3 separate regions of the Homo sapiens genome follow, and regions 1 and 2 are each linked to region 3. Evidence: fine-mapped expression QTL. A gene starts in region 3. Each other region holds a variant in brackets. All regions are shown on one strand. Distances are from middle to middle. Region 1 overlaps PCARE (photoreceptor cilium actin regulator). Region 2 overlaps TOGARAM2 (TOG array regulator of axonemal microtubules 2). Region 3 holds the start of TOGARAM2 (TOG array regulator of axonemal microtubules 2).

What was found. PIP is the estimated chance that this variant, and not a neighbour inherited with it, causes the effect.
Region 1: its variant is the best candidate, but not a certain one, in a credible set for the expression of TOGARAM2 in cerebellar hemisphere (GTEx, PIP 0.55).
Region 2: its variant is the best candidate, but not a certain one, in a credible set for the expression of TOGARAM2 in whole blood (INTERVAL, PIP 0.87).

Annotation. Positions count from the first base shown.
Region 1 is chr2:29,057,037-29,067,677 of GRCh38, forward strand. PCARE (photoreceptor cilium actin regulator) reads right to left here. Exons shown (of 2, transcript NM_001029883.3): 2 at 4,659-8,031. The coding sequence ends at 7,833. Among named protein-coding and RNA genes, the nearest start is that of PCARE, 12 kb to the right of the region's middle. RefSeq lists enhancers at 5,835-6,749, 8,093-8,775, 10,077-10,577. The variant C/T (reference allele first, on the strand shown) is at 6,462.
Region 2 is chr2:29,021,409-29,032,049 of GRCh38, forward strand. TOGARAM2 (TOG array regulator of axonemal microtubules 2) reads left to right here. Exons shown (of 20, transcript NM_199280.4): 11 at 750-900; 12 at 1,678-1,783; 13 at 2,731-2,966; 14 at 5,445-5,603. Among named protein-coding and RNA genes, the nearest start is that of TOGARAM2, 45 kb to the left of the region's middle. RefSeq lists an enhancer at 2,319-2,820. The variant G/C (reference allele first, on the strand shown) is at 5,205.
Region 3 is chr2:28,975,756-28,986,396 of GRCh38, forward strand. TOGARAM2 (TOG array regulator of axonemal microtubules 2) reads left to right here and starts at 5,543. Exons shown (of 20, transcript NM_199280.4): 1 at 5,543-5,783.

The DNA.
Region 1 (10,641 bases), 81 kb after region 3:
AAGATGGGGGCCCAGAAAGGGAAGCCGAGAGGAAGAGCCAACCTCCTCATTAAATTCTGCAGTGTTCCAGGTCTGCCATTCTTCTTGACATCTTATAAGGAAGATATTATTTCTTCCATTTCCTGATGAGGAAACTGGGCCTCAGCGATGCTTAATGAATAACCGCAGCCAGTGCACAGGAATCACCTGGGAATCTTGGTAAAGTTCAGATTCTGCTTCAGCAGGTCTGGGTGGGGCCTGAGAGTCTGTAGTGTTCAATTCCCAGGTGAGGTCAATCCTGTGAGTCTGGCAGGGACCACACTTTGAGGCGTCAGGTCCTAAGACAGCAAGAAAGTGGCTGAAACTTGGGTGTGTGTCCAGGCCTGTTTGACTCCAAAGCCCCTGACTTTCTGTTCCAGGATGTTTTATGGCTCCAAGACATTTACCTCCCCTTGGGTCAGTTTGAGCCCTTTGAAATAAGCCACGGAAACCCCATGGATTTCTGGAGTTAGTCTGGTCCCAGAGTTTTGCTCCCAAAAGCTTCAGGGCAGAGAGGGTCTGCTTGGTCAGCTCTGATCATTAGGACATGCTGTGAACACTTGGCCTCTGGTGGGGACGGGATTTGTGGACACAAATGAAGGCTACATGAGCAAAGTGTAGCCTATTCAGAGCTTGCTATAGCAAGGGAGCCTGCCATGACGACCTGAGTTTTGGCAGAGACTCATATGCAAGCAGAGGTAATGCTGCAGCTTCATAGTGGAAAAAGGGGAGACTTCAGGTATGCCCTGATTGGAAGCTGTTGGCCTGGGGACGCTGTAGGCACGAAGTGTGGACTGTGGCTTGCTTGTTACAGTATCACCCACGGTGCTTGTTAAAGTACAGATCCCTGGGTTGTACTGCAGACCTACCGAATCAGAGCCTTGATCACTCAAAGTTGAGAACCTCTGTCACAATCTCAAAGCTTTCAGTGGTTATTAGGTTCCCAGGCTAGCCCACACCTGGGAGTCAGCATCCCTAAATCAGTCTTTACCAAATGTGGTTGATGAAAAGAATTGCTTGCGGGAGGAGAACGGGGAGAGAGAGACGGGAACAAGTGCTTTTTAAAAACTCAGACTCTTAGTCTCAGCTGTAGATCTGTTACTGGGGGGAAGGCCTGGGAATCTGCAAATTATCAAGCAGCTGATTCTGAGGATCAGGAAGCCTGGGAAGCAGCGTCCTAACTGCCTGCTCCCAGCCGGGTTCCAGACAGCACGGCAGCATCACTGTGTGCACAGATGCTCCCTGGTGGGTGTTTCTGAGTCAGGGACCTCTTGGGGGCTCAGGTTTGGTCCTTATGATTACTGGGGTTTATTCAGGGGGCGTGCTGGTTTCGCCATATTCCGTCCCCTGGTGTTTCAGTGAAGCTGGCTGTAACATTTGAAGGCTTTGCTTTATTTTAATCACATCTTTATAATTACCTCGCTGTGAGTTGACAGCTGTTATTAACATCACCTTGGGTTCTCCTTGAGAATTTTTACATCCTTAAAGTGATGCGGCACTTCTGCAGCTGAAGTCAGAAGCCGTTAACTAAATAATCGCTCTAAAATGTCACCAGGTTTTGTAAACATAGCCAATACTGTCCCCTTCCAAAGGAGGAAAAAAAATTGCTAGATAAATAATTTTCATGAAGGCAATTTGTTTCCCAGGGTCTATATTATTTTCTGTCTCATCCACTGGTTTTTGCCGCTGTGGGGCACTGGCAATAAAGAGCTGTCTCAAGAAGGAGGCCACGTCTGCTCCTGCCAATTTTCATCTGGAAGCCCACTTCAGGGTTCATGGCAATGAGAAGCAAAGATTTTTGGAAAAGACTTTTCTTTTTCTCTTAATGCTAGCAGCAGTTGTGTGTGTGTGTGTGTGTGTGTGTGTGTGTGTGTGTGTGTGTGTGTGGAAAATGATGGGAGTGGTTGAGGTTCATAGAGGGAATTATTTTAAAAACTCTTGGAAACATTGTTTTGAGTTTTCATCCAAGCTAGTTTGAGGAATGGCTAGAATTTCAGCTGAACTTTGATTAGATATGAAAAGTAATGTCCTGGGCTAGGTGTGGCAGCTCACACCCGTAAACCCAGCACTTTGGGAGGCTGAGGTGGGAGGATTGCTTGAGTCTAGGAGTTTGAGACCAGTCTGGGCAACAGAGCAAGACCCCATCTCTACAAAAAAATAAAAAATCGTAGCTGGGAATGGTGGTGCATGCCTGCAGTGCCAGTTAATCAGGAGACTGAGGTGGGAGGATCACTTGAGCTTAGGAGTTCGAGGCTGCACTGAGCTACAGTGAGCTATGATTGTGTCACTTCACTCCAGCCTGGGCGACATTGAGTGAGACCCTGTATCTTTAAAAAGAAAAATAATTTCCTATTTGTAAATGTTGGAGAAAATGGAGAATTTCTTCCATAGAAAGGTATGCTGTCTCCTTCCAGTACTGCCTCTATGGAATAATCTAGATCTTGCTTTCAGCAGGTATCAGGAGGAAGGCTGGCCAGGGTAAGAGGCCTGCTCTGCCCTCACTGGCAATGTATCTTTGGAGTGAGATCTTTTTTTCATGTGTAAAAGGTATTGAAAAAACACTTGCTTTGTCCATCTCATAGCGTCTTTTTTCCTCTAAAGATTTAATGAAACAATGTACATGATTGCATTTTGAAAAAGTAGAGTGTTACATACAAAGAAAGGTAGAATTATTAACTGGAGCCTCATCCCACACTGTGTGCAAAGCCTGCTGTTTAGCAGTGTTCAGAGTAATTGCCAGTCATCTATCTGACTGACTGACAAGCCTCATGACTCAACATGGGAAAGATGAGAGATTCAGAGGCTTAATTTGTTTTTTTCCATGTGGTATATTTGACATATGTACTTGCAATTGCAAGCAAATATTGTAAAGTCTTTTCTCTTCACTTTGAAAGACATGAAAACCTTCAAAGAAGGAAGTCAATTCTTGCTGAGTTTGACAGCTGTTTTTAAGTTTCTCCAAAGATCAAAGCGCAGCCCAGGAATGAGGGGGAAATGATATTGGCTTCTTTTCTCAATCGGGATCTTAAAGTGCGGAGGCAGCAGAGATGAACACTAAAGACCAAAATGGCCAGGATTATGAGTTCCGTTCCCCGAGGTGGCTCAAAAAGATGCCTTAGAAAAGACAGGTTTGCCCCTGTTGTGCAGATGGCAGGATAAATAGGCTGACATTATTATCACTGCTTTGCAGATGAAGACACGGGCTCAGAGATGCCAGGTCACAGAGCCAGGGGATGGAGGTGTCATGACTCAGGCTCTGGTGTTCTAATTCCAACTCTCAGGAGCGTGATACCCTCTGGCTCCTGAGAATGCGTGGCCCATTTACCATACCCCTTGTTTCTTTCCCCTCCTGCTCTCTTCCTCCTCTTTTTCTTCTTCCTCCAATTTAGGCCAGTCAGCTTTATCTATGGGCATTAACTGAGCCCCGCCAGTGCTATCACTCCAGCCAAAACCGATTGCTGCCTCGTGTGCTAGACTTCAAGGCTGTCTGCAGTGACAGCGTTCAGAAGCGGGTGACTAGATCAGTGGAATCCTAGAGCCACCTGATGCAGGGCCCACCGACCATTCACAAAGTTACTTTGTGAAGTCCAGGAGTGCGATCAAGCCTGCAGTGTCCAGGGTCCTTCCTAAAATTGAATTAGAGTGCTGAGTGAATTAACTGTTTGCTCCTCTTCTTGTGTGATGCATTTTTAATTACATTTCATAAAAACGTCTGGATGGATTGATGGAGCTTTAGTTAAACTTCAGGTAGGCAGGGGGAGTAGACGATGGTGCAGTATAACATGTTCTGTTAATACAGGCTCAGAACACATGTACTTTATGGCAGTTCAACTGAATCTTTGATGTAGGGCTACTTAAAAATATATTACCTTTGAAAAGATTTCCTTTGAAAGATAGAGTGGGTGCTTTAGCAGCCTGTAAGCCGTCAGCCAGACGATCAATTGACAAACACGTCAGCACTTATAATTCACTGCAGCGGCTCCCCTGATACATGCAAAACACTGGTTTATTTCAGAAAAAGAATATATTTCTCAAAATCCCTTTCATTCACATTGTAAGGTTTATGAGGCAAGTCTTGTCAATCCTAGGCCCTTCACAATGAAAGAAAAGTCTCTTTGGTCTGTCTGCCCTGCGTTTCCTACAACATGGATTATTTTAGGCTCTGAACTGGGCATACGATGTGAGGAAGGAGAATAGATACGGCTTAAAGTAAACAGCAGCTCAGACCCCAGCCACGGAGGGAGGTTATATTTCATTTTGAAGATTGTATTTATACTTGCAAAAAGCTATCACTGTTCTGCCAGAATATGATGTTTACTTTTTTTTTTTTTCTCCATGAATCCTTTTGATGGGAGCAGAAAATTCTGTTTTTTTCCCTGGGGTGGAACTGTTTACAGTGTCACTAAAGTGTTGGGTAAAGGGCTGGGCTCAGTACCTCCCTCTCCACAGCTCTGGGGTCTCCATGGTCGGGAAGATGAAAGCTGTGCTCCTCCAGAGTGGAGCTGGCCCGAGTGAGAAGATGGGTATGACATGTACCCCTTAGATTGATCTGTGGTGGGTTCCTCCTTCTCTGCATCCCGGACAGTCCTTGGTTTCTAACTCTATGAAGAAAAAGTATAGACTCATGGGTCTTCAATGAGTTGGGTTCATTGGCTTAATAATTTTTATTAAAACAAAAAGCAGAACAAAGAAAAACTGTCCTCCCTTCCCCCTTGGGCAAAGGAAGTGGATTTGGCCCAGCAAGGATACCATTCTTGGGTAGAAGGGAGATGGTGGGCGTGAGCAGCCCTTGTCTGAGAAGCTGTACAGCTGGGTTTGCCCCTCCTGCCACCAGCAATGCGTGCTCCAAGGCAGACTCAAGTTTGTGGAAGACCTGGTCTCTAGGAGGCAAAACTGACCAGATGCCACAAAACTGTTCCATTGTGGATTTAATTCCTTTTGTACAAAGTCTAATTCACATGTAATTTGAGCTAAGTCTGGTAGTTGGTATGGTAGCCAAAAACACATCTTTGACCCGCCTGCTCCTATGTCGGCTCAGCACTGCTTCACCTTTGACCTAATTGACCCCCAGCCCCCAGCACCTTGGCAACCCCTCCCCATCTTCCCTGGAGTGGGGGAAGCTGACTTGGAATTCCAGTAGCCTAAGGTTACTGGGCAACACAATGGTGTCACCAGCTCACTGTCCCGGCTGCCTGGGTCTGGTGGCAGCTGGGGGCTTTTATGACATCGTGTGTGGGGACCTATGGCAGGAGCCTCGCCCTGTCCTGGCACACGTTGGCCCCAAGCAAACGTGGAGGTCCTCCAGAGGGACAAGGAGGCATCATGGGCATCTCCACAGCTGATGGCAGGATCCCGGGTGCCCTGTACCCCTTCGTCTGCTGCCTGCAATATGGTGGGTGGGCACTTCCTGCTGCTTGCCAGCCTAGCCTGGCGAGGGACAACCTCTAGTCTCAGACAGCCTCCTGCCATGCATGCTCACGGAAAGCACCGTTGTTCATTCCGGACCCTTCCTGCGTGTTCTCCATGATACTGACCCCTTCTGTGGTGGAATAATCTGCCTGGCTCCCTGCTGCCGCTAGCTTGCATGGCCACAGCAGGGGGCACTCGGCCACCCTTTCCACTTTCTACCCAGCCCTGGACTTTTAAGATGAGGCCCTTTACGGAAGGAGGCCTGGGCTGGAGACTCAGCCTTGCTTCCCCTCACTGCTGGAGTGGCTCCACTTCATATCCCGGTTCCAGTAATGAAAATGTGTATAATTCCTGGGGTTCCACCCCTCATGGTACCCCAGTTTCACCCACTGTGTCCCACTCCAGTCTCCCTGCAGCTGGGGAACAGCTTCGTTTCCTCGGACCTCCAGGAATCCTGCCCCTAAATCTGAGCCCAGGCAGGGCCCACTTTCTGAGCAGTCCCACCTGAAGCCACTTACTTGTGAGCTAGACCTCAAAGGCCGCTCACACTGTGTGTCTCCTGCTCACTCAGCTCAGTGCCCAGCTTACCTAAGGCTCACCCCATGGTGACCCAATGGTTGGTCTGCCCAACCATTTAGGGAGAATGCCCAGATCTCTGTCGGGCAAGTTTGCTGAACCTGGTCCATCCTCACGTGCTTACCTTGGCCCCTGCCCTGCCTGGGTGGCTGGACTTCCCTGCGTTGCCTGCAGTCCAGGCAGCTCCTAAGTGTCCACCCAGCAGTGGGTGTGGCTTGGCTCTAGAATCGGCTGGCCTGGGCACTGCCTGAGCACTTCTCTGAGATGAGGGCGGCAACAGGAGCAAATGCGAGCAGACAGCTGGGTGTGTCCCTTTCCAGCAGAGGGGTGGGTTGTGGCCCCTCTTGGTAGTTTAATCAGCTGTTCTTTGGGTGCCTTTGAATAATAATTGGACAAGTCAAGGTGGGATTCATTTACTCAGAGTCATAGCCTCTCTCTGGGGGAGGTTGCTATAGTCC[C/T]TAGGGACCCAGTTTAACAAGTTTTTGAGCCCACAGTCCCAGCAAGAATGGGTTTGAGGTCTATAATTACCCCAAACTTTAAAAATCAGCTTTGCAGCAGATCTGGAGGATCGTCCCTTTGCTGTACCCCAGTGGGTAAGAATTCTTGTCTTTTGCCAACCCATTGAGCCGGCATTGAATCACTCAATTACTGCAAAATCTTTTCTAAATAGAACGCACACCACAGCCTCCAGTGGAAGCATTCCAAGATCTGCAGCAAATATCTAGCTCATTGGCAGAAGCAGGTTTTTGGCATGAACAACTGTTTTTCACTTTGATTTCGACTCCAGCAGAAGTTCTGCAAGATGACCTGGGAATAAAGTTGGCCAAGAAGCCTCCGAGGGGAGATCGGCGTGTGAGTACGTATGCCTCACCCACGCTATCTTCTGAGCTCCAGCACCCACGGCATGTGGAGAATGGGCTGCCTTGTTTGGGAGGCTTGGTTTACCCTACTCCGTCGAGAAGCATGTAATGCGTAGGGCAGTGAGAGCATTTGCTACATGCTTAGGCCGAGAGGCAGCGTGGCTGGTATTGTGAGCTGTCAGCTTTAAGTTTACAGCATTGAAACTGAGCTTGGGAAGGAGGAGAGGACAGAGGACGGGTGGGGCTGTGTGTTTTAATCCTGGCTCACTCAGCCTTCTCATTTTGGGAGCCATGCACTTCTAAACAAAGCTCTCAATAGGGACTTTGTCAATGCTGTGCCGCTACTTAACCTTACAACAAAGAAGCTTTGCGACCATTTGCGCACCCATGTCTGCTTTAGGCAGGTGGAGTGACGCAATAGTTACGGGCAATGGAATGTAATAAAAAGAGCAGAGAGATTCTAACACCAGACTCATCTGTGCAAAATTTTGCTCTATTCTCTTCTTAGCTGTATGACCTTCAGCCAGACACTTGAGGGGGCCTCTCCCCACACCTTCGGTTTTCATATGCGCAAAACTGAAGAATGCTATGTGCTTCATTCACTGTTGTGAGGCTTAAGTGATCTCAAGGAATGAACCCAGTTAAAACCCTATCAAGCATGCAACTATACATTCTCCACCCCCCACCCCACCCCAAATTAAGGCCAGCACTTGAAGCATTAAATACTGTCATTGTGGGGTCTAAAAGTTCTGGTTAACCTTTGAACCCCAAGGCAGAGCAAGATCTGGGACTGAAAACGGCGATTGTTTAAAATTCAGCAGACCCACTGGGCAGTGCACCTTCCAGGCCTTTCCAGGACACCTCAGTAGGAGTTTGGTTTGCCCATCATCTCTGGGTCAGGCTGGACACTTGGCTGTCACACTTGGCCTTCTGGGGTGACTGCGTGAGTGTGGCCCCCTCGTCAGCCTGTCAGGACACCTCCTCTTGCTGGGGCTGCGCCTCTGGCTGGGATTTGTCCTGGATGTGGCCGGTCCGAGGCTCCGGTTGCAGCCCGTGGCCCAGCACACAGAACTCTGGGGGAGATGCACGCCTGGTGCCGCCCTGCAGTTCAGGGGAACAGGGGCTGCTCCCCGGCTCTGTGTCCTTCTTAGGGCTCTCCTCGCTGCTGCTGCCGAGAGAAAGGACAAGTGCAGGTCAGACACTCCTCCTCTGCTGCTCCTTCCTGCCCCACCCCTGTCCTCCATTCTCCCTTTCTGTCCCTCCCCAGCCCTCTCCCACAAGCCTGTTCACCCTGGGTGCCAGGCCTCTGCCCTCTGTACCAGGCTTGCCAGGCTGGTGCCGCCATTGCCGTGTGCCTGCAGGGGTGGGCGCTGTGGGAGCTGGGGTGACTGGCTGAGTCCTGTTCTTTCCCCTGAAGCCCTGGATCCTGCTGCTCTGAACAAAGCAACTCCCTCAGAAGCTCTGGGAGCTGGGCCTTTATTTTGTTTTTGTTTTTAAAGCACTTCTTGTTTAATAAGGGTTAGGCTTAGCCAGTTGAATTAAAGACAACAACAACAACAAGGAAAAAACCGGCTTCGCTCAGCTGCCACCCTTTTCCCGAATAGAGAAAAATGCAAACAGCTTGGCCCAGCGCAGGCCCCGCATTTGGCTGGAACAGAGATTCTCAGCTGCCAAGTGACACAGCTAAGAGGGGCTTTGCATGGGGAGAGGACCCCCACAGGAGCCTGAGTGGGATTTGGGAGTGCCTTGGGAGTGCAGAATGGAGGGTGGCCCTGAGCATGGAGCAAGCTTTGGCTAGCAGGGGACCTGCCCAGGAAACCACACTGGCCGTCTGCTGGCAGGACAGCCTGAGGCTTCCCAGAGTGGGAATTAGAGGCTGACTGCCTGGTTTCAAGTCCTGACTCTCTGGCTTATTAGTTCACCCCTCTGAATCTTTGCTTCCTTCCTTATAAAATGGAAGTAATAGGCCGGGCGTGCTGGCTCACACCTGTAATCCCAGCACTTTGAGAGTCCTAGGAGGGCGGATCACCTGGGGTCAGGAGTTTGAGACCAGCTTGGCTAACATGGTGAAACCCCATCTCTACTAAAAATAGCAAAAATTAGCCGGGCATAGTGGTGGACACCTGTAATCCCAGCTACTCAGGAGGCTGAGACAGGAGAATCGCTTGAACCCGGGAGGCAGAGGTTGCAGTGAGCCGAGATTGCGCCATAGCACTCCAGTCTGGGCAACAAGAGTGAAACTCTGTCTTAAAATAAAAATAAAAATTAAAAAAGGAAGTAATAATAGTACCCAGCTCATCAGGCACTCATAGGTATCAATACTGGGTGAAGCATGGAAGACCCTTGGCATACTATTGTATTAATAGCATAAGTGCCCCATAGGTGGGTAGTGACACTATGGAGCTGCATTGTTGAATGAACAGGAAGTCACACTAGGAAAGGACTCTAGGGACCACACTATCCTACTACAGGGACTATGAGGCCTTGGTCAGAGCTCTCAATCAGTTGCCTCAGGGCCAGGACAGGACCCTAGTTCCCCACATGCACAGGCAAGAAGGCCCTTCTCTCTGCTCGCGACAGCACATTCTTGCCTGATCTGTGAGCTTTATTGCACAATGTGCTCAGCTCTGTGAGGTCAGGCTTACATGGGATGCCAAACCAGTGGAGAATATGTTTGCATTTGGATCTGAACAAGATCGAGGTGGGTGGTAGGAGTCGTGGGTAAGTGGGGTGGGCGCTAAGACCAGCACACAGCTATGGTTGTCAGACAGGAAGGAACCCAACTCACTGTGCCATGGAGCCAATCTCATCTGTGTTGGCCTCCGGCCCCATCACAGGTCCCTACAGGAGTTCAGGGCCCAGGGCCCACTGGGTATCTGATCCAGGAGACTGAGTAAGGGCGGCAGAGCGTGCATGCCTGGGCAGTCCAGGCCAGGTGAAGACTGAAAACACCACATTGAGGGGAGAAAGTCTGGAGCCTTCTCAAATGCACACAGTGCCCCAACATCCTGAGACCTAGAGGCTGGTAGCTCTGCTGGGGGATTTGGCACAGAAATAACAGTTGAAGCTCAGTAATTGAGCTTCCTGGGTAAGCCTCCAAGGGCTGTTCCCAATCCCCAGGTCCCCAAGATCAGGAGATATAAACATCATCCATTTTTCTAAAAAGGGGGCTTCTGCCTGCACGGAGTGACTGGAAGGGCAGGCTGGTTCAGCTTGCAGGCCTGCCTCAGCTGCAAGACATCATGGGTGTGGTTGTGTCCCTGCATGTCCGTGCTTGGGGAAACAGCCCGTTCTGAGCAGCCTCTGGCTTCCTGGCACTGGCTTGTTGCATGATCTTGGGGAAATCATGCCTAGTCCCTGGTGGTGTTTCCCCATATGCAGGATGGCAGAAAAAAATGCTTGCCATTCACAGGGTGGCAAAGGCTTGATATGCTTACAGCAGGTGCACTTCTGCTCCCAGATGCCAACTTTATACCTGGGGGCAGGGGTGCTGGGGAATGAGCACTTTCCCATCACATGCTCACAGTGTGGGAAGGCTTACAGCTGTGTGGTGTCATAAGAGGCGGGGGAATGGTTGCGAGTCATTATACAACCTTCCACGTGACCTTGGGAAGCGTCCTGTTTATGAACCCTCCCCTCTCTCTCTTTTTTTACATTTTTCTCTAGATGAGGTCTCACTCTGTCACTCAAGCTGGAGTGCAATGGCACGATCTTGGCTCACTGTAACTGCCACTTCCCAGGTTCAAGCAATTCTTGTGCCTCAGCCTCCCGAGTAGCT
Region 2 (10,641 bases), 46 kb after region 3:
GCTGTGGAGGGTCCCCCACCCTCTCTGGGCCTCTGGGACCTCAACTGTGTGATCAGGGCATTTGGCTAGACAGAGGCCCTGTAAGACTCCTTCCTGTCCTAGGAGTTTATGATTTCAGCATCTGTCTCCTGGGAAGGAGAGCCTAGAAAACACGACAACCTGTTTGTTGTGGGTCCCTGTGTGTGTGGCTGCATCTGGACTGTGTGGGTGCCAGTTAGCTACATTGTCTTCCTCTAGCCATCTGCTCTTGGACTCTTCCCTGCTTGTGGGCAACCTCACAAAAGGCTGGATAGCAAGAGGGAAGGAAGAGGCGCTGACCATACAGGCCTCTGGTTGGGAATGAGGTTAGACCGCCACCAAAGTGAGTAGGGAGATCATTCATTGATGGCTCAGGGGGCCCCACCCCACCACAGATGGGGCAGGTTTGGAGGTGTCCCCCTGACTGGGGGGTTTAGTCCCATGACATCATGTGGCTTATCACAAATCTGTTTATAAGAATCGCATTGGCAAGGGCAGGAAGGGGAAAAGTCAGCCAAAGGTAGAGTTAGGAGGTCTTCATGGCTCCTGGGGAGGGAGGCCCAGGCGCTGGGTTCTTAGCCTCACCAGGCACTTCCACTTGTACACCCTCCCTGTTAGGTGGGCTCAGGGTGGTGGCACGGCCTCCCATGGTGAGCGGTGGCAGGAGCGGCCACTCGGGCTCTTGCCTGTCCTGCTGCGTGAAGCCTGCTGTTTCTTTCTTGTGAATGCAGCTAACTCATTACCTGCGGTGCTCACGTTGGGGTCTCCTGAATGGGAAGAAGAGGAGGAGATGGATCTTAGAGCCTGTAAGGAGTTGAGGCCTTTCTCGAACCCGGAGCTGGGGCTGAGGGATGCACTCCAGTGCCTCAACAGCAGTGACTGGTGAGGAGATGCTTCCACCACGTGCTGTGTTCTGGCCGGAAGCAGGGGCTGTTGCAGAATAGCTTCTGCCCCTCAACTTCCCTCCTCTCCCACTCTGGGGTTCCAGCACCATGGAGCATAAAAGCCAGTTTGGAGGGAGGACTGTGCATGCATATAGATATGTGTGTTTATGTGCGTGTGTGCATGAGTGTGTGGTGTTCCTGGCTTTATGTGTGTGCCCTGCGACCCTCCAAGCAGCCTATGCATGGCTCTGTGGTGTACCAAAGCCAGGCATGGCAAGGATGCATTTGATTCCACACCATGGGGCCCAGGAAGGCCGCAGCCCTTTATTTCTCTGAATGAAATTGAATCTGCTCCGAGCGCTCCTCCCACTGTGGGGATGCAGGACCGTAGTCATGAGCAAAGCAATGCCTCGGCCTCCAGAACATTTGTGAGAAGCCCTCCCTGCCTTCAGTCCTCCCTGTTCAAGTGCCTTTTATTGAAGGTGTTGGCTTTGTGTCAAGGACCCAGACAGGTCCTGGAGGGGGGTGGGCTTCCATACAGCACTGTCAGAGCTGAGGGCTGGCCAGAGGCCACATAAAACTGGCTTTTACTGAGTGGTTAGGATTCCAGGCCAGGGTGTTACCCCGGGAAACCCTGCTCTGAGGCCATGGAATGGCACCCTGCTGCGGGTGACGGTGGACCGTGATGGTGTGTGATGTGGGGCCCCTAGTCTGCAGAGGGGTGGGGCTCCTCCCTCTCCACCCTTCTGCAACAGGGCCTGGCCTTGCTTCTCAGGCAGATGAAGGAGAAGGGTCTGGTGAGCATCCAGCGCTTGGCAGCCTGTCACTCAGAGGTCCTCACCGGGAAGCTGCACGACGTGTGCTTGGTGGTGACTGGGGAGGTGAGGCCCCCCAGCCTGTGTGCTGTGCATTTGGCCCCACTGCAGCTGCTGGATGCAGTCCGCTAGCAGCTGTGGAGGGGCTGTGGCTTCAGGGACATGGGGATCCCTGCTTATTTCTCAGCCTTCAGCCACTGAGGTAGGAGGTAGCCACCCATTTCTCAGATTGGAAAACTGAGGCCTAGGGTTTCCTTATTTGTAATCTTTGAGAATGGAAACAATTAGAATCCCACATGCCCATGTGTCGGCCTGCATGGTCCTCTGTACTCAAAATGCCTAAGGAGGGATGGAGCGTCCAGGGCCAGATCCCCAACTCCAGGGCAGTGGTAGTATTTCCCAAAGCGTTTCTTTCATGGCTCTGTGGCTTGGTCTAGCTGGGTCCAGAGAGGCAGGAGGCTACATTTGTTCTCATGTGGAGGCTGTGCCCTGCCCTTGGGAGTGGGCTGCTCCAGTGGGGGTGGGGTGGGGATGAATACGGAGGACGCTGTTTTGTTAACACAGGGGCCTGGGCTGTGTGGGGAGCATCTGCCTTCCTGCATGTGGCCTGGGGTCTCTGTTTCCTCTGCAAAGTGAGGCATCCAGAAAAAATACAGTTACATTCTCCCAGGTTAATTAGAGCCTCAGTCAGCACTACTGTGCTTCTCATGGTACCTATTTCTCACTTGGTAGTTGCAAAGATCAAATCAGACATTCTTTGTAAAAGTGCTTTGAAGACAGAGTGTACACATTTCCTATGGTCATGATAATGATGGGATTAATAATTGAGATGATAACAAAATGGGACAGTTTTGCTCAGAGTGGCTGCAGGGTTTTTGTTTCCAGCGTGGCAAGGCCTAGGTCAGGGGAAGGGTGGGGGTGGAGGAAGAGGGTGGTGCAGGGCCCATTTTCCATGCGTCCCAGAGCCCTTGGCAGGGTCCAGCACCCTGGAGGGCCTCTCTCCTCTCTCCAAGGTCACCAACCTGCGGTCCAAGGTGTCTCACCTGGCCATCAGCACCTTGGGAGACCTCTTCCAGGCCTTGAAGAAGAATATGGACCAGGAGGCCGAGGAGATCGCCCGCTGCTTGCTGCAGAAGATGGCGGACACCAACGAGTTCATCCAGAGAGCAGCCGGCCAGTCTCTGAGGGCTATGGTGGAGAATGTGACCCTTGCCCGCTCCCTGGTGGTCCTCACCTCGGCGGGTGTCTAGTATGTGGCTGCCTGTTGTCTGAGGGGCGGGGAAGTCAGGGAAGGTAAGGCAAGGGGAGAGGCCCTGGGATGTGAAAGAAGGAGGGAAGGGTGCAGGGAGGGAGGGAGGGAAGCAGGCAAGTGAGGCTGCAGGGGGTCCCTTGAGATGCTAGAGGACAGGGTGATGGGTCAGAGGTTCTGAGTGAAGAAGGGGCCCATCTCAGACTTCACAGCAGGTGCTTCCCACTTAGCTGGGGGAGGAAGACCCCTGCTTCCCTGTGCCGGGCATCCGGCTTCTCTCCCAACCTTTCATCGGCCAGGCCGGGGGAATGCAGGGACCTCTGGCTGGAAGAGGAGGGGGCCGTTGCACTCCAAGGCTGGGGAGCACACCGTGGCTGTGGGAGCGCCCCGGGAGACAGGGCTGCAGAGGCAGCCTGAGCATGGGCCCTGGAGCTCCTGTCACCCCCAGGAGCAGTGTTGCTTTCTGATGAAATGTGGGCCAGTGAGAAGAGAAAGTCGCAAAATTTCATTCTCCAGCTTGCCCCACTGGACCTGCTCCTGGGGAGGGGAAGGTATTGGGTTCCTGTTGGAGCCTTTCTGCAGATTTGTTTTCCCTGTCATTAAACACCCACACTAAAAGCAAAACCAAAAGCATTTCCCAAGCTGCTTCTCCCGCACAGCAAAAGGCCTCTCCACCCCATAAGTGGATCATTACACTGATGCGTGAGGTTTCTCAGTAGCCCCAGGGGCCTGTTGGACCAGCTGGGAGACCTTTAGTAATTGCACCATAGCATACTGCAAAGGGTGAGATCCTGCCCAGCCACATTGCCTGGGTTCACATCCTGATTGTCACTTCACTTCTCTGTGTCTCAGTTGACTCATCTGTAAAATGGAGATAATAATGGTGTCTACCTCATGAGGTTGTTATGAGAGGTAATTGAATTGACTCACGAAAGCGCACTTAGAAAGGTGCCTGCCCATTCCTGACATTCACTGAGTGCTTACTGTGTCTATAATTAACTTAGGAGAAATGAATTGTATTTTTTTTTTCTGGATGCCTCCCTTTGGCTCAGCTTCCTCACCTGCAGAATAGTGATGATAATAGTAGCTAATGAGGTAGATGTGAGATAATGGATAAAAGGTGCTGGCATGGAGGGACAGGCAATTGATCACTGTCAACAAGAACCAGGGTCATGGCTTGTGCATCTGAGTCCGCTGGGATCTTGCTGAAATGCAGATTCTGGTTCAGATGTCAGTGCTGCTGGTCCATGGACCATGCTGAGTAGGGAGAGTTCTGATGTCCCCCACTGTGTTCCACTGGGGTGAGACTCTAGGGGACAAAAGGGTCAGTGCTTCCTGATGGAGTGTGGACACAGAGGCCCTTAGAAAGAGGTGCCATTCTGACAGGTTTCTCTTATAGAGCTCAGGTTCCACTTGTTATGGTCACCAACTCACCCATGAATCCCTCTTCTCCCTCCTGTCTCAGTTCAGTTCAGCAAACATGCATTAAGCTCCTGCCAAGCACCAGGGATGTGTCAGGCACAGCAGGGCAGTGGGGTTGCCACAGAGAGGGAATCAGGACTCCAGCCAGGACACTAGGTAGGGAAGCACCAGGGGCCTGGGGCGGAGAAGGCAACCAGCCAGCCCCGAGGGGCCTGGAACATGCAGCTCAGCTTCCCTGGGATTCTGCAGAGGGACAGGCAGGTGGATGAAAGCTATGTCCTTCAGCTCTAGTCCCATCCCTTCCGTCAAGCCAAGCCCATTCAGCAAGGAGTCCTTACTCCCTGCCTCCACTTTCTTGCCTTCCATTTCCCCTCTGCCCATCGAGTGTTGCTCTTGTTTCTGCCTCACCCCAGTACTGTTCTCTGTACATTCAGGCCTTTTTTTTCTGGAGATACTTAATGATCACTCTTTTCGTCATTATGGATACAGCAGTGAAAAAGAAAAATGAAGCCCCTGTTGTTTTGGAGTTACTTCCTAGTCAAGGGAGACAGATAACCTGGTCCCCGCCCACAGGGAGCTGGCAGCCTGATGGGGGCCCTAAGGGTGCAACTGTACTTCCCCGGGGACAAAGACAGCGCTACCTTGGGCAGTGGGTGGGATGTCTAATTCTGCCTGTGGGGCTGGGGAAAGAAGGAAGAAGAGACACTGGTTAGGTAGGACTTTTCTAGGTGGAGGGAAGATGGAGAAGAGTACTTAGACAAAAGGAAGGATGTGTGTGCAGGAAGCTCCCAAGAACGGTATGCATACGGTGTATTG[G/C]GGAACCTCGTGTAGCTTCATGTCACTTTCCTTCCCTCTCCCGTTGTTGCTGTCACCCTGTTCGTAGAAAGTGAGTGCTCTTTCCTCAAAGATTCCCCTCAGCTCACATGGGGACAGGTATTTTTGGAGCCCCTGGCTGGCATGAAGCATGGGTCTGCAATGGTAGATCCATGTTTGCCAGCCTGGGGACTCCCACACCACTATCCTGAGACTGACCCCTGGGCCATGATTTCCTTTCAGCCACCGGAACCCCTTGATCCGGAAATACGCGGCTGAGCACCTCTCAGCTGTGCTGGAGCAGATCGGCGCTGAGAAGCTTCTCTCGGGCACCAGAGACAGCACAGACATGTTGGTGCACAACCTGGTGAGGCTGGCACAGGACTCCAACCAGGACACCAGGTAGGGCAGGGCCAGGGGCCTGGGGGCAGAGAAGGCAACCAACCAGCCAGCCCTGAGGGGCCTGGGGCACACAGCTTCAGCTTCCCTGGGATCCTGCAGAGGGACAGGCAGGTAGGCGGAAGCTATGTCCTTTCCTTTCAGCTCTTGTCCCATCCCTTCCATCAAGCCAAGCCCATTCAGGGAGGGGTCCTTACTCCCTGCCTCCACTTTCTGGTCTTCCATTTCCCCTCTTACCCATTGAGTGTTGCTCTTGTTTCTACCTCACCGCAGCACCATTCTCTGTAAGAACATTCAGGCCTTTTTTTCTGGAGATATTTAATGATCACTCTTTTTCTTATTAAGGACACAGCAGTGAATAAGAAAAATGAAGTCCCTATTGTATTGGAGCTTACTTCCTAGTCGAGGGAGACAGATAATAAATAAATAATTATGGTAATTTTAGATACATATCAGGGATATAAAGAAAAAATAGGCCGGATGTGGTTGTTCATACCTGTAATCCCAGCACTTTGGGAGGCCAAGGCAGGAGGATTGCTTGAGGCCAGGAGTTGAGACTGGGCAACATAGTAAGATCCTGTCTCTACTTAAAAAAAAAAAAAATGCTAGGGGTGGTGTTGCACACTTGTAGTCCCAGCTACTGAGGGGCTGAGGTGGGAGGATCTCTTGAGCCCAGGAGGTAAAGGCTGCAATGCAATGGAGTTGGTGGGGGGGCTGCTTTAGACTGAGGGTTCAGAGAACCTTTTTTAAGAGTGACATTTGAGTTGAGAGCTGAACGGCTACACGGAGCCAGCTCTTTGAGGATCAGGCAAAGCAAATGTCACAGAGGCCACTGGATGGGAACAAGCTTGGTGTCCAAGGGTGGGGACGGCCAGCCTGGTGGAGCACAGTGAGTGAGGGGTGGGGGTGAGGGTGGGCAGCAGGCCCAGGTCAGAGACGTTCTCCTAGGCCAAGGTCAGGAGTTGGGATTTTGGATGGTGTGTGATTGGAAGTCATTGGAGTGTTTTCTTAGTGGGAGTATGAGGAGGTGTTGGAGGATTTTAAGCAGGAGAGCGAGAGGATCTGGTTGACTGTCTTCAAAAGCTAGGGCTGGAGCCCAGTTCCTCACACTCCTCAGTTCAGGGCTTATTACTACCACATCCATTTGGATGAGTGTGTAGGTCTCCACCCCTCACTCCATCCTCGCCCCAACTGGAGACCATGTGGCACCTGTCAGGGCTCCAGAGGCCATGCCCACCCTGGATGGGTGAGCTCCAGGCCAGACATTCTCGTAGGGTACCCACGTCTGAGGGTGCTCCCTGAGGGATGTAGTGCCTGCGGTTCCTCCCATTCTCCCCTGCTGCAAACTGTGCTGCATGGCACCTCCTCGGACGTGCCCAGGAGCAGGACCGTGGGTCAGATGCATGTGTGTGCTCCAGCAGCCCCGCCCTGCCTGGGGTCCACATCTGCCTCCCTCCTGCACAGCCTCTCAGCATGTGGCAATTTCTAGATTTCTAATTTTTATCCATCTAATGGGTAAAAATGATAGCTCATCATTGTTTTAGAGTGCTTTGACCCCCTGCTTATTAATAATGAGTTTGAGTGTTTCTTTACATGCGTGTTAGCCTTTATAATTAAAAAAAAAAGCCTCTCTGGCTGCCGCAGGACTGGTAGTGAGAGAGAAAGGCAGGAGGAACAGCAGATGATGGCTGCCCCACAGTCCAGGCAAGAGGGGCTGGAGGCTCAGACTGGAGAGTGGTGGGTGGCTTCGGCCAACAGCCAACAGGATGGCAGAGCCAACAGGATGCAGGTGGTAAGGGTTTCAAAGACGAACTGAAGATGCTCTTAAGTTTTTACCCTGAACAATGGTGAATAATAGTGCCATTTGCTGAAATGAGGAATATCAGTGGAGAAGTGGAAGGTTTTGCTTACTCCTGCAAGAATGGCCATAATCAAAAAACCAAAAAATAATAGATGTTGGCGTGGATGTGGTGAAAGGGAACACTTCTACACTGCTGGTGGGAATGCAAACTAGCACAGCCACTGTGGAAAACAGTGTGGAGATTCCTTAAAGAAGTAAAGGTAGAACTACCATTCGATCCTGCAATCCCACTACTGGGTATCCATTGGGTATCATCATATGAAAAAGATACTTGTTCACGCATGTTTATAGCAGCACAATTCTCAGCTGCAAAAATGCGAAAACAGCCCAAATGCCTCATCATCAATCAACGAGTGGCTAAAGAAACTGTGATATGTATGTATGTATGTGTGTATACACACACACACACACACACACACACACACACACTGGAATACTTAGTCATAAATAGGAATGAATTAATGGCATTTGCAGTGACCTGGATGAGATTGGAGACTATTACTCTAAGTGAAATAACTCAGGAATGGAAAACCAAACATCGTATGTTGTCACTCATAAGTGGGAGCTAAGCTATGAGGATGCAAGGGCATAAGAATGACATAATGGGCCGGGTGCGGTGGCTCACGCCTGTAATCCCAGCACTTTGGGAGGCCGAGGCTGGCAGATCACAAGGTCAGGAGATCGAGACCATCCTGGCTAATACGGTGAAACCCCGTCTCTACTAAAAATACAAAAAATTAGCCAGGTGTGGTGGCGGGTGCCTGTAGTCCCAGCTACTCAGGAGGCTGAGGCAGGAGAATGGCGTGAACCCGGGAGGCGGAGCTTGCAGTGAACCGAGATCGCGCCACTGCACTCCAGCCTGGGCGACAGAACAAGGCTCTGTCTAAAAAAAAAAAAAGAATGACATAATGGACTTTAGGGACTCAGGAGGAACTAGTGGCAAGGGGGTGAGGGATGAAAGGCTGCAAATAGGGTTCAATGTATACTGCTCGGGTGATGGGTGCACCAAAATCTCACGAATCACTACTAAAGAACTTACTCATGGAACCAACCACCACCTGTTCCCCAATGACCTATGGAAATAAAAAATTAAAACAAAAACAGGCAAACAAAACATTGCCTGGCTGGGTGCAGTGGCTCACATCTGTAATTCCAGCACTTTGGGAACCCAAGGCAGGTGGATCTCTTAAGCCCAGGAGTTTGAGATCAGCCTGGGCAACACAGTGAAATCCTGTCTCTACAAAAAATACCAAAATATTAGCCGGGCATGGTAGCACGTGCCTGTGGTCCCAGCTACTTGAGAGGCTGAGATAAGAGGATCGCTTGAGGCCAGGAGGCACTGGTTGCGGTGAGCTGAAATAGGGCCATTACACTCCCGCCTGGGCAACAGGGTGAGACCCTGTCTCAAAAAAATAAATAAATAAAAAAATCACAAATCACATAGCCATTAAACTTGGAGCAAATACTTTGAAGAGTGAGTTTAGGGGGACTGGAAGAATGGGATGAAATGTCTATAAACAGCTATTCTTTGTGTAGCATCTACTAGAGCATCTACTATATAATAAAGTGTTGTGTAACTCTGCCATGCAACGAAAAAAAAAAGGACGTAGAAGGTTTTGGTTTGCTTGTTGGTTTTAAATGGTTGTTAGAGGGATGGAAATCAAGGTCTAAAGTCTCTCCAGATCTGCTACTCCTCTCCATTCTGACCCATCCCTTACACTAGATGATGGTGACTACATTTCCTTTTCCTTCCTAGAACTCTGTCCTTCCTGGTTTCCATGGCACTGTACTCCGGGGATTCTCCTTGTCCCTCTGTGACCATTCTGCCCCTGACTGCCACCTGAGTGTAGGTGCTGCCAAGGTGTCTTTAGTCCTCATCTCCCTCTCCTGGCTTTTACTTCTGGTGGCTCCAGCCACCAGCAAAGTTGGAGGCTTCTCAATTCTTGCCCTCCACTCCAGACCCTTCTTCGAGCATCAGTCCCCATTTCTAAAGCCTCCATGGGACCCACCATCTGATGTCCTACTGCCATCTGCAGTGCTGAGTGTCCCTAAATGAACTCATTGCCTCCTCTCCAAGTCTGCCTCTCTGTGTTCTCTCTATCATTAAAAGTGACTGTTATTTACTGAGCCACCCAAGAGGCACAATGGGGACTCCCATACTTCATTGATTTCAAGACACACATCCTTCCCTGGTTTTAATATTTTTAAAATTGGCATGTATCTTACAATGACAGGCATTTCACAGTTGCTGTTGGGCTTCAGTTGGGCTAGGCAGTGATTAGGACATAGGTGTTTTTGTAGTTTTAAGAGATGGGGTCTTGCTATGTTGCCCAGGTTGGAGTGCAGTGGCTATTCACAGGTGTGATCATTGCACACTACAGCCTTGAACTCCTGGGCTCATGTAATCCTCCTGACTCAGCCTCCCAAATAGCTGAGACAATAGGTGTGCACCACTGTGCCCAGTTTATGATGTAGTTATACTATCTGCACCTTCACAAACTTAGTCAGTGTTGCTCAGAGTATTATTTTCTGAATTAAATTTTCCATTGTAGGAACTACACTATGAGCCTTTCTTTGTAAATTTTTAAATTTATTTTCAGAAGTGATTTTTGGATGCTCTCTGGAGAATCATTGAGTTTAATCTGTTTAAAGTTTCTTAGAAATATTACACTATTATTTGCAATTGAAATGAATAATTATTGTATATGAGAAAAGGCATGGCAACGTCAGTGGATATCCATTAGATATCAATGAAGCAAACTCTCACTGTGGAAGGAATGACCAAGTCCCACATTTTTTGCAAAGCAATCACTAAGAACTTTACCTGACCTAAGGAAGAAAAATACCGACAAGCAATGCTATCTTCTGTTTCTGAGATAGCACATAGAAAGATTGCCCTCACACATGGGGCAGTGTCATTGGAGGCTATGGAAATCACCAGTTTTTATTTTTCTGATTTTCCTTAGTGGAAAATAAAGTAAGGGCACCTTTTACAATTAATGGAGTCTTAAGTTTGAATGAAATATGATTTAAGATTTTAGATGCTTCCTGCTTCACTTCCCACCAGCTACCAAATCCTGTGGTTTCCATCTTCTCAGCAGCTCTTGGATCTGACTGTGCTTCCTTATCCTCACTGTACTGCCTGATTTCAGGCCTGCACCATCTTTTTCCTGGACTATT
Region 3 (10,641 bases):
GGCATTTATCCTGTTTAGGTCTAGCACACAGATCTAGGTGGGATTGGATGTTCGCTTCACCACTGGGCCTTGCTGATACCATCTCAGCAAAAGCAGGATATTGCCTCACACCCCTATGCCTTTCCTCATTGCTGATGATGGGATGGAATTTCAGCTCCCCACTGGGCCCTGCTGGTGGAGGCTTTTTAAAAAAATGACAATATATGTACAGGAATATGTACATATTATAAGTATGTGAAACATATGCTTAATTTTTACAAAGTGGAAGTTTAGGAGCATTTTACACATTTTCCTATTTCTTTGCATGTTCTTATAAAAACATATCAAATTCTGGGCCAGGTGTGGCGGCTCACGCCTGTAATCCCAGCACTTTGGGAGGCCGAGGTGGATGGATCACGAGGTCAGGAGATCGAGACCATCCTGGCTAACATGGTGAAACCCCGTCTCTACTAAAAATACAAAATAATTAGCCGGACGTGGTGGCGGGTGCCTGTAGTCCCAGCTACTCAGGAGGCTGAGGCAGGAGAATGGCGTGAACCTGGAAGGCGGAGCTTGCAGTGAGCTGAGATCACACCACTGCACTCCAGCCTGGGCGACAGAGTGAGACTCCATCTCAAAAACAACAACAACAACAACAACAAAAACCCATCAAATTCTTTTTTGCCATTAGCTTCTGGAGTTATTTACTCACCTATTAACTCCTCCCCTCCCCCTGCCCTCCATCTCTCGAGCTTTCCTGTGGCTGTGGGGCAGGGAGCTGCTCTTCTCTGACACGTCCTTTTGTGGAATGGGGAGAAAGGAGGGAGAGGCACACCCCATGTGAGATGAGGGGTTGGCTTCTGTTGGGAGAAGCCCTGAAGGGCAGCTGGGGCCAGAAGCAGCATAACCAGAAGGCGTTAGTCCCCATCCTGTCATTACCACTGAATTCCTGTGTGACTCCATCATCTGCGATAAGAGGGGCTTGGCCTAGTCCTCTCTCTGATCCTGTGCTTAGGTTGCATACATTATTCTAGAGTTTCCCAGGAACTTCCCAGGGAACACGTCAGCCCAGTGGCAGGTGCTGGTTGGGAGGGGCCTGTTCTGTGTCCTTGGCAGTGTCTGAGCACCCCCACCCAGCCTGTGGTACTGACAGGGCCTTTCAGGCTCTCCAGGCTGGGGCTGGCCTTGGAGGGGGTGGGGCAGTGGTATTTTGGGAGATAAGCCAGCACAGTGTCAGTCTGGAGGCAGTGCCAGCTTGCCTCCATTATCCGCTTTTCTACCTGGGGGGGCGTGGCCTGTGAAGGGATGGGGGGCTTCCAGCCTTTCTCCTCAGCCTGGGCCAGGGCCCAGGACACAGGGCATCAGGGCTCTAAGGGACCAGGAGGTCACCCAGTGTCTGATCACAAATGACAGTTTGGAAGCCCAAGGAGGGCAGGGACTTGTTGGAGGGCACACAGTAATGGTGACAAAGTCAGGACTGGAACCAACTCTCTGTCCACTTGCCTGGAACCCTTGGCCATGCCCTATGCTAACCATCTTTAGCCTGGGGGCACCTTATCCTGAGGGATGGGTACCTGAGACAGAGATGGGGGAGGCGCCTGAGCATACCACCTCCTAGGGTCCCTACCAGGGGCCCTTGCTCCCCATGCTCCCTGGGATCTGACCTCCAGCTAGGCCTGGGATGGTCCTGGTTTATAAGGGGGCAACACCAGCCCAGGGGGTCAGAACTCCCCCTACCTGTTCCCTGCCATACAATGTATGGGGCTGAGACTCTGGTCTGCAGCTTGGATCTCAGGTCTGGTCCTGGAAGAAGCGGTGAATGTTGCAGGGGCGGGGGCTTCTTATGCCGCCAGCCACTTCCTCTCCCCACGTGCAGTCAGGTTGGTGTCGCTCTCTCAACACCCATGTGGAACCTGGCTGGCGCTGGTTCCAGAGATATAAGGCATGAATCCTGCCCCCAAGGAGCTCACAGTCTAGGTCTGTGTGGCTGGCTGGTGGGCCAGGAGAGGGGCGGGCAGTTACAGTCAGCGGATGAGTGGTGCTGTGATAGGGAAGTGCTGGCCCTAGAAAGGCAGATGAGAGGCACCTCTTTTCTAGAGAGTCAGTAAGGACTCCCCTTGGGAGCACGTGGGTGGGAATTGGCCAAGGGAGATAGGTATAAAGTGTTTTTTTTTTGGTTGTTTTTGTTTTGAGATGGAGTCTCATTCTGTCATCCAGGCTGGAGTGCAGTGGCACAATCTCGACTCATTGCAACTTCTGCCTCCTGGGCTCAAGCAATTCTCCTGTCTCAGCCTCCTGAGTAGCTGAGATTACAGGCATGCGCCACCATGCCCAGCTAATTTTTGTATTTTTGGTAGAGACGGGGTTTTACCATGTTGCCCAGGCTGGTCTCGAACCCCTGGCCTCAGGTGATCTGCCTGCTTTGGCCTCCTAAAGTGCTGGGATGACAGGCGTGAGCCACCGTGCCCGGCCGGAGATGGGTATAAGTAAGGGGTAGGAAGGGATATGGGAAAGGCTTTTGGGGTGGAGGGAACAGCATGAACAAAGGCCAGGAGAGGAGAGGAGCATGACAGCTACATCCCAGAGCAAGGGGAGAAGACCCCTCAGTGAAGTCCCTGCTAATAGCCCAGCTACGTGTTCAGGAGACTATTTGGATATAGGATGCTCAGGTCATTTGCAATGGGAAGTGTGTTCAGGGTATCTAGTCCTTCTTGTTGCTAGACATAGAAACAGCTTTGTTCACTTTACAAATCAACAAGGGCCAAGAGGACTCTTGGTGACATTTTTACTGAGGGAACAGGATCAGAATTTAGTAGTCTTCCACTGACCAAATCCATCAGCATGGAAAGTTATAGAATGTTGGTTTCTGAAATCTTGAGTAGATTTCTGGGGTAGATGGGGGCTATCCCCTGTGGATGTGGAGGGGGCTACTTATTTGGTACTTTCAAGAGCCCTCTTCCCAGCTTGTGATTCTGTATTGTGAGTCAGTTTAATTCATTCACATCAAGTATTTGTTCATCGGTTCTGGGGGTGGGAGCAGGCCAGTGTGAGCACACCCAGGAGAGTCGGGGCAATGACTGGGAACACTGGGCACTGGAGGAGACAGGTGACATCTGGTTTCCTTCATAGCTGTTGACCCTCTTCCGAGGGTCTGGCCGCCCTTCCACCAGGGGTCGATACAGGCTTTGTGAGACTCGAGGCTTAAACAATTTGGGGGCTTCTTTAAGAAAGAAAACAAAATTAAGTATGAAAATATTTTTTTAGAATGAGAAAAGAAGTCACAACAAATGACTGAGGGCTGGATTCGTGTCCCTTTCTTTCTGAGGTCTCTTCAGGGGAGTTCCAGAGAGCTTCCAGGTGGCAGCCTGGCTGCCCTCCCCACCTGGAGTGCCCCAATCCTTCCAGGCAGCTCCTGGCTCCCCCAGAGGCCCGGGGCTCAGGTTGTGTTTGCCTCAGCGGTTTCCACCCATGCTCCTCGACTGGCCTGCTCCTTACCTCGGGGATTTCATGTGGATGTCACACCTCACTGCCCCTGGGATTCGCTCTCTGTCCATGGTCACAGTGAGGGTGAGTGCGTGCTCTGTGCCTGGCGGGCACACTGAGGGTCACTGGAGCCACCCCAGGGAGGGAGGATCTGCAGTCTTCCTGCTAGGCATATGAAAGAACCAAGACTCAGAGAGTTTGTTTCTTGCCTAAGATGTCATTGCTGGGATCAGAATCCAGTCTGGAATCCAGGGGCTTCAGAGCCCTGGTTCTTAAGGGCTGTGCTGTGTTATCCATCCTCCCTTATTGCAGGTAACACAGGAACAAGCAGGGGGTTACCTGCTGGGGCCTCTCTCCATCACTCAGCTCCTGAGGGCAGGCTGTGCTGCCTCCTGTGTCTCTAGCATTTGGCACAGAGCATGGCCAGCCCACCTTGGGAACACATAATGCTCGGCCATCCAGTGGAGGCAGAGTGTGGAGAGCCCAGGAGCTGAAGGAGGATGCAGTGGGGCCTGATTAGAGGGGCTTGGCAGCCATGGTGCTAAGTCTGGCCCTTACACCAAGGACAGCAGGGGCCATGAGGGGTGTCCAGCAGGGCACGGCCATCGGATCTGTGTTCTAGAAGCTCCGACTCAAGCAGCGACATGCAGATGGGCTTTGGGGGAGCTGCACACACACCATCTCCCTGCCAGAGCTGAGGGACACCAAAACCTGCCTTGTCACGTCCCCGCCCTGGGTTCCCATGGTTGAGTCGCTCTCACTCACAAGCTGTGTGGCTTGGGGCAAGGGCTTAACTTGCCAGGCCTCTCTTTCCCCACCTGGGCATCTTCATACCTGTCTCCCAAGGGGAATCCGCACAGCCACTGTTCCTGGTTTGGAGGAAGAGTCTCCTTTCTGGGCCTCTGCTACAGGGAGTTCAGGAGTTCCGTTCGCCTTGTCAGCTGTGACCTCTGGCTTGGGGCCAGCACCTGCCCCAGAGGGACCTTGTTCTCAGTCATAATTGGCTGGCCCTCCTTGCTCCCTCCTGGATCTTGGTAAATGACAGCAGCTACTCCCAAGGCCTGCCCTCCCTGGCCATCTCAGGGAAGAGGAGAGAGTCCCAGGAAGGAGCTACCCCGTGTGCAAGCATTTCAGCAGCCCAGGCCTCGTGGGGTGTAGTTGGCCTCCCACCAGCCATCCCTGTGTGTTCCACACACCTGCTGATTCCTTTGTACAGAATATGGGGAGGAGCTGCCTGGGAAAATTCATAGTATCTTTGGGCGAGTGGCTGTTTGCAAGCCTGCATACAAATTGAGTCCTTGGCTTCCACTGTGTGCCCCCTGGATGGTGAGGGCTAGAAGGGGGTAGCATGAGGAGTGGGACTGGCTGTCATTCCAGAGAGAGGATGCCAGCCTGGGATTTCCGCCCAAGAGCCTGGGTTCAGTGAGAAAGTACACATGGGCTGCTAGGATTCACATTTTCCAAAAGTTAAGGTGGAGAAATCTGGTTGGGACGAAGGCCACAGGCTTTCTGCTCTGCAAGGATTTCTGGGGAAGTGATGGAGAGCCTACCAAGTGCTAGACAAAATTACAAGCTGTTACATGCACCTTTGAAATCCTTACAGCAACCCTATCAAGTCAGTACTATTGGTGTACCCATTTTATAGATGAGGAAACTGAGGTCAAGAAAGGTAAAGTTCTGACCAGAGGGCACACAGCTGGAAGTAGCAGGATCAGGATTCAAACCCAGCTGCCTGCTGCCAAGGCCTGGATGCTCACTCTGTCTTTCTGCCTCTAGGAGAGTTAGTAAACAGAAGCAGATTGAGCCCAGAGGCCATGTGAGCAAAACCAGGAGTTCTACCAACAACATCCCTGCACCAAGCCAGCTATGCACTTCCTGGCTGCAGTCACCAGGCAGGGGGGCCCAGTGCTCTCTCTTTCTGTGGTGTCCATGACCCTAGAGGACAGGTCGGCCACTTGGTAGTGCCTGTGCTCCGGTGAGCCACAGAGGCAATGAGACCAAGGGGAAAATCTCTCGGCTCGGTCTCTCCCCCGCGCAGGGAGCTATGGGCTCCTTCAGCGAGTGGTTGCTATGCAGCCTTGTTTATTCAAGGAGAGCTTTGCTGAGAGCTGGAGCACGCCAGCAGTGGAGCTCGTGGCCACCCAGCCCCTGCTCAGACAGGAGGCTGCGGCCCAGGACTGTGTGGCTGGTGGGGGCCAGGGTGGGCCAGGCCTGGGGCTGCCCCGTCCTTGCCTCCCTGGGCCCATGAGCATCAACGTCTCTATAGAGACCAAGGACCCTGGATTCCTCCAGTGACAGGGGTTTGGCCTCTGGACAGAGAGGTGAGAGACGATAGGTCCACCAAGCCATCTATTGTAGGTGGTGAATGGGAGGCTGGGTCAGGACCCCTGAAGTCCCTGGAGGGAGGGATAAAGACCTGAACTGGAGCAAGCACAAACACACAGAGAAAGAAAAAGCATCCTGCTGTGACTTGGAGGCTGTGTGACCGTGGGGATGTCTCTGACCCTTTCTGGGCCTTCATGTGGCAGCTCTAGGGGAGGAGGTTGGACTCACTGTTCTCTGAGCACTGGGAGCCAAGGAAGGAGGGGCTGGCCTGGGCTGACCCCTTCCCCGAGTCATGGCCTCTGTGGGCAGTGCTCTCTACCTCAGGGTGAACCCTTCACAGGGCAACAGCTCCCTGGGGTGCTGTGGGCGATGGTGCCGGGAAGGGTGGGGGCATGCTGTGGGGATGGCACCCGTGCTTAGGGGTGCTGGGGCACCCCGTGAGAGCATAGGCCTTGGAGGGGCTCTGCTCTGGGTTTGAATTCTAACCCCCCCTCTTTCTGGCTGTGTGGACTTGAGCTCTTTGCCTCTCTGAGCCTCAGGTTTCTCATCTGTGAAGAAGGGTTTAAAAAAAGCCCCCTTGGTGCTGTCTGTGAGCATGGAGACAGTCAGGAGGGCAGCTGGCACGTTAGCCCATGCGCAGAATGGAAGTTACTGTTTGTTGTTGATGCTGTTGTTAGGTGGAGATTGGCATGTTCCTTTCTGGAGCACATTTCAGTCTCCTGAAACTAAGGTTTTGCCAGTCACTTCTCCAGGACAAGGGCTGGTGCTGGCGGGGGACCTCAGAGGGCTGCCATTTCCTCAGGAGCGCTGGGAGGGGAGGGACTGGGGCCCGTACTCTGTCGGAGCATCACTGAGGCAGGCCACAGGGCATTGGTGCCTGGCCCCAGGAAGTGGTGTGAGGGGCCCATAATCGCTTCTATCCTGAACTGGGCAGTCCCTCGCTCTTCTCACCAATGCCCTGCAGGAGACGGCCCTGCAGCCTTCTAGCCACAGGCTGGCTCCCAGGACTGGCTCAGTTTCAGCCCATGGAGCCTGAGACTAACAGATTTGAAGAAAGGGGGAGGTAGTTGGGGGCAAGGGATGGGGAGATGTCAACCTGAGCTCTGGAGAGACCTGCCTCTGAGGGCAGCGCATCCTCCCATTGACCCCACGGCTACCTCAGAGGCACCAGACTCTGCTCACTAGCACAGAGGCTGGAAGTTTATTATTGCAGACAGAAGAATGCATAAAATGCATGCAGTGTGAGGAATAATTATAAAGTGAATGTCCATGTAGCCACCTCCCAGGCCAAGAAACAGAAAAACTGGCCGCCTCCCAGAACCCACCCCCGTGGGCCCTGTCCTTATCACAGCTGCCTCCCTTCCCCTTAGGGTTAATCATGCTACTAATTTTTCCTTGATTTTCTATCAAGTTTTCCATCTATGTCTGCATTTTTATTTTAATTTAATTTCGCTTCATTTTTTGAGACAAGGTTTCACTCTGTCCCCCAGGTGGGAGTACAGTGGCATGATCTCAGCTCACTGCAACCTCTGCCTCCTAGGCTCAAGTGTTCCTCCCACCTCAGCTTCCCAAGTAGCTGGGTGTACAGGTGCACACCACCATGCCCGGCTAATCTTTGTGTGTGTGTATATATAAATATATATATATATATATATATTTTTTTTTTTTTTTTTTTTTTTTTTTTGTAGAGATGGGTTTTTTCCATGTTGCTCAGCCTGGTCTCGAATTCCTGGCTCAGGTGATATGCCTGCCTTGGCCTCCCAAAGTGCTGGGATCACAGGTGTGAGCCACCACGCTGGGCCTATGTATGCATTTCTAAACACTCGATGTAATTTTGTCTTTCTTTGAACTTTATAGAAGTAGGGGCATACCCTGTGTGGTCTCTTGGGTCTGTCTTCTTTCACTAAACATTACGCTGTGGCATCGTCCATAGTGTTGAGTGGGGCAGTCGTTTGTTTCATTGCTCTGTAATATTCTATGTTGTGAGTGCACCATGATTTAGTCCTTCATTTTCCTGTTGGACATTTAGATTTTTTCCAGATTTTGGCCATTATCCATGGCACTGCTCTGGACACTCTCGAGCTCCTTTCCTGGATCACCTGTGCAAGACTTTCTCAAGGGTGGGTTCCTAGGAGTGGAATTGCTGAACATTAGGTTTGTGCATTTTTAGCTTTATCAGGTAAAGCCAGACCACTTTCCCAAGGGTTTGTGCCCATTTGCATCTCACCTGCCAGCTGTCATGAGTGCTCCCATTGCTCTGTGCTCTCACTAGCACTTGGCATTGCCGCCCATCTCAATTTTTGCCCATCTTTGTGGGATGGTGGTAGCATCTCATTTGCATTTTCTTGATTACCAGGGGGTTGAGCATCTGCCCCCAGCCATTCTTCCTCACCTCTTTCCTCCTCTGTTGGGTGCCTCCCTTCCTCTGCTCTCTGTGATCTCAGCCCCTCATGGTGCTCAGGCTTTTGAGCCCCATTTTTCTCTCTGCCCTCCCCACTCCTCCATCCCTCTCCTCCATTCTTCTTCTTGGAGAACCAATCACTATTCCACATACTTCTTAGTGTTTGAATTACAGACCCAGGCTCCAGAGCCACTGTCTGGAAGTCTGAGTTTCCCATTTCGTGTTTTAAAACCTCTGGTTCTTGGCCCAACTCACATCCCTTCCTGGGTCTTGGATTTCTCTTCAACAAAACAAAGACAGAAAAAAAAATGTCCCTCCACAGAAGCCATTTATATTTCCCAGGCAAAACCTGGTGTATGTCCTGGAGAGGCACACACAAAACTCTGGCTCCTATTCAAGAAAGTCGGCTTTCTCATGGGCCATTGGGAAGGGACAGGGCCGGGGTCTGAAGTCTTCTGAGCTTCTTGCAGGGAGGCCTTTGCCAAGAGCCCTTTCCTGGGGTGTGACAGACATTCAGATGCTAGAGTCATGCCAATACACCTTTGCTGAGACTTTGGACAAGATGCTTTCTTGCTTCCTAGTCCCTTCTGATCCTCTGAGTACATGTGCTTGTTTACAGTCTACAGTTTGAAGATTCAAGCTCCTGCTACTGGGCAGGAATCCTCAACTGATCAGCCAAACCCTGCAGAAGGCATTCCTGGGGCAGTGGACCAAGCCATTTTTCATTCGAGACTCCAGGACTATGATCAAGTGCTAGGATAACTCTTACCTTGATGGTGGAAATCTCAGGGCCAGCAGAAGACTTCCAAGCCCCAGCCAATGGCTGTGTGATTTCAGGCAGGATTGATGCGGTGGTATCCTACCCCTCCCAAAACCTTAATCCTTGGGAGCACACTACACAGGCTCTGACCAGGCACTGTAGTGGCAAGGTGACCATTTTGGGGAGGCCTTGATGGGAAGCTGGAAAAGGAAGCTTTCCTCCCAGTCCTGCTGAAGGCCTTGCCAGCTGGCAGCCAGTGTGATGCCTATAGGGGTATGGGCCCTGGGATAGGTATTGGCTCCTGATGGCCTTATGTAGGTGTTATAGACTGAATGCATGCGTCCCACAAATGCAAATGTTAAAGCCTAACCCCCCATGTGTTGGTATTAGGAGGTGGGGCCTTCGGGAGGTAATTAGATTCAGATGAGGTCGTGAGGGTGGTTGTCTCATGATGGGTTAGTGCCCTTAGAAGAAGAGACCAGAGAGCTTGCTCTCTGTCTCTCTCTCTGCCATGTGAGGACAAAGGGAAGACAGCTACCTGCAATCCAGGAAGTGAGTCCTCACCAGGAGTGGAATCAGCTGGCACCTTGATCTTGGACTTCCCAGCCTCCAGAACTAAATTGCTGGGGTTTTTTTTTTGTTTTGCTTTTCATTTTTTTGTTTTGTTTTTGTTTTTGTTTTAAGTCGGAGTTTTGCTCTTGTTGCCCAGGCTGGAGTGCAATGGTGTGATCTCGGCTCATTAACCCCTCATTTACAAGGGAGGAAACTAGCTGACCTCCAAGGCCCCTTCCAGCTTGAAATTTAGTAACAGAAGAAAGGCATGGGAAATTCTGTTAAATTACTAGACCAAGTTCTGATTAATCTCTAATTTATATTTGCACCAACACGATACACAAAGGTGGGGGCAGGTTCAGAAGATTTTGAATTTTGTAAATTTGTGTATAAGTTACATACGCTTTGTTACTAGGACCACAGCCCACTCATATGGTTCCTTTGTGAATTAGAAAAAGATGTCTCTTTCTCAAGACACTTTTCTTCTATTCATCAGAAAAAGACTGAAATGAATGTACAAATATGTACAGTCATCGTCTAAAACAACATTGCCAGGACTTTGGAGAAGATGTAGTGTGAGGCTTATGCCTGTAATCCCAGCATTTTGGGAGGCTGAGGTGGGTGGATCACTTGAGGTCAGGAGTTCGAGACCAGCCTGGCCAACATGGCAAAACCCCGTCACTACTAATAATACACACAAAAAAATAACTAGCTGGGCATGGTGGCACATGCCTGTAATCCCAGCTACTTGCAAGGCTGAGGCAGGAGAGTTGCTTGAACCTGGGAGGTGGAGGTTGCAGTGAGCTGAGATCATGACACTGACCTCCAGCCTGGCCGACAGAGTGAAACTGTGTCTCAAAAAAAAAAAAAAAAAAGATGTAGTGTGAGAGATGTCTCCTTAATTAGGATGCCCTCGTGCAGTGCCCAACCTAGACAATCAAACATGGCAGCCCTGCTTGTCACTTATCTCATTGTTTTTCAAAAACAGCCTAAATAAAACTTTCTCTCCCCCTAGGCTTTCCTATGTCTTTTAGACTGTTAATTCTCACATCAGAATTTCCTGGGGTTGTGGAGGGGGGATGTTTTAAATGCTGCGGCCCATCCACCCCCAACCCGAGATACCCACACTGAGCTGCTATTA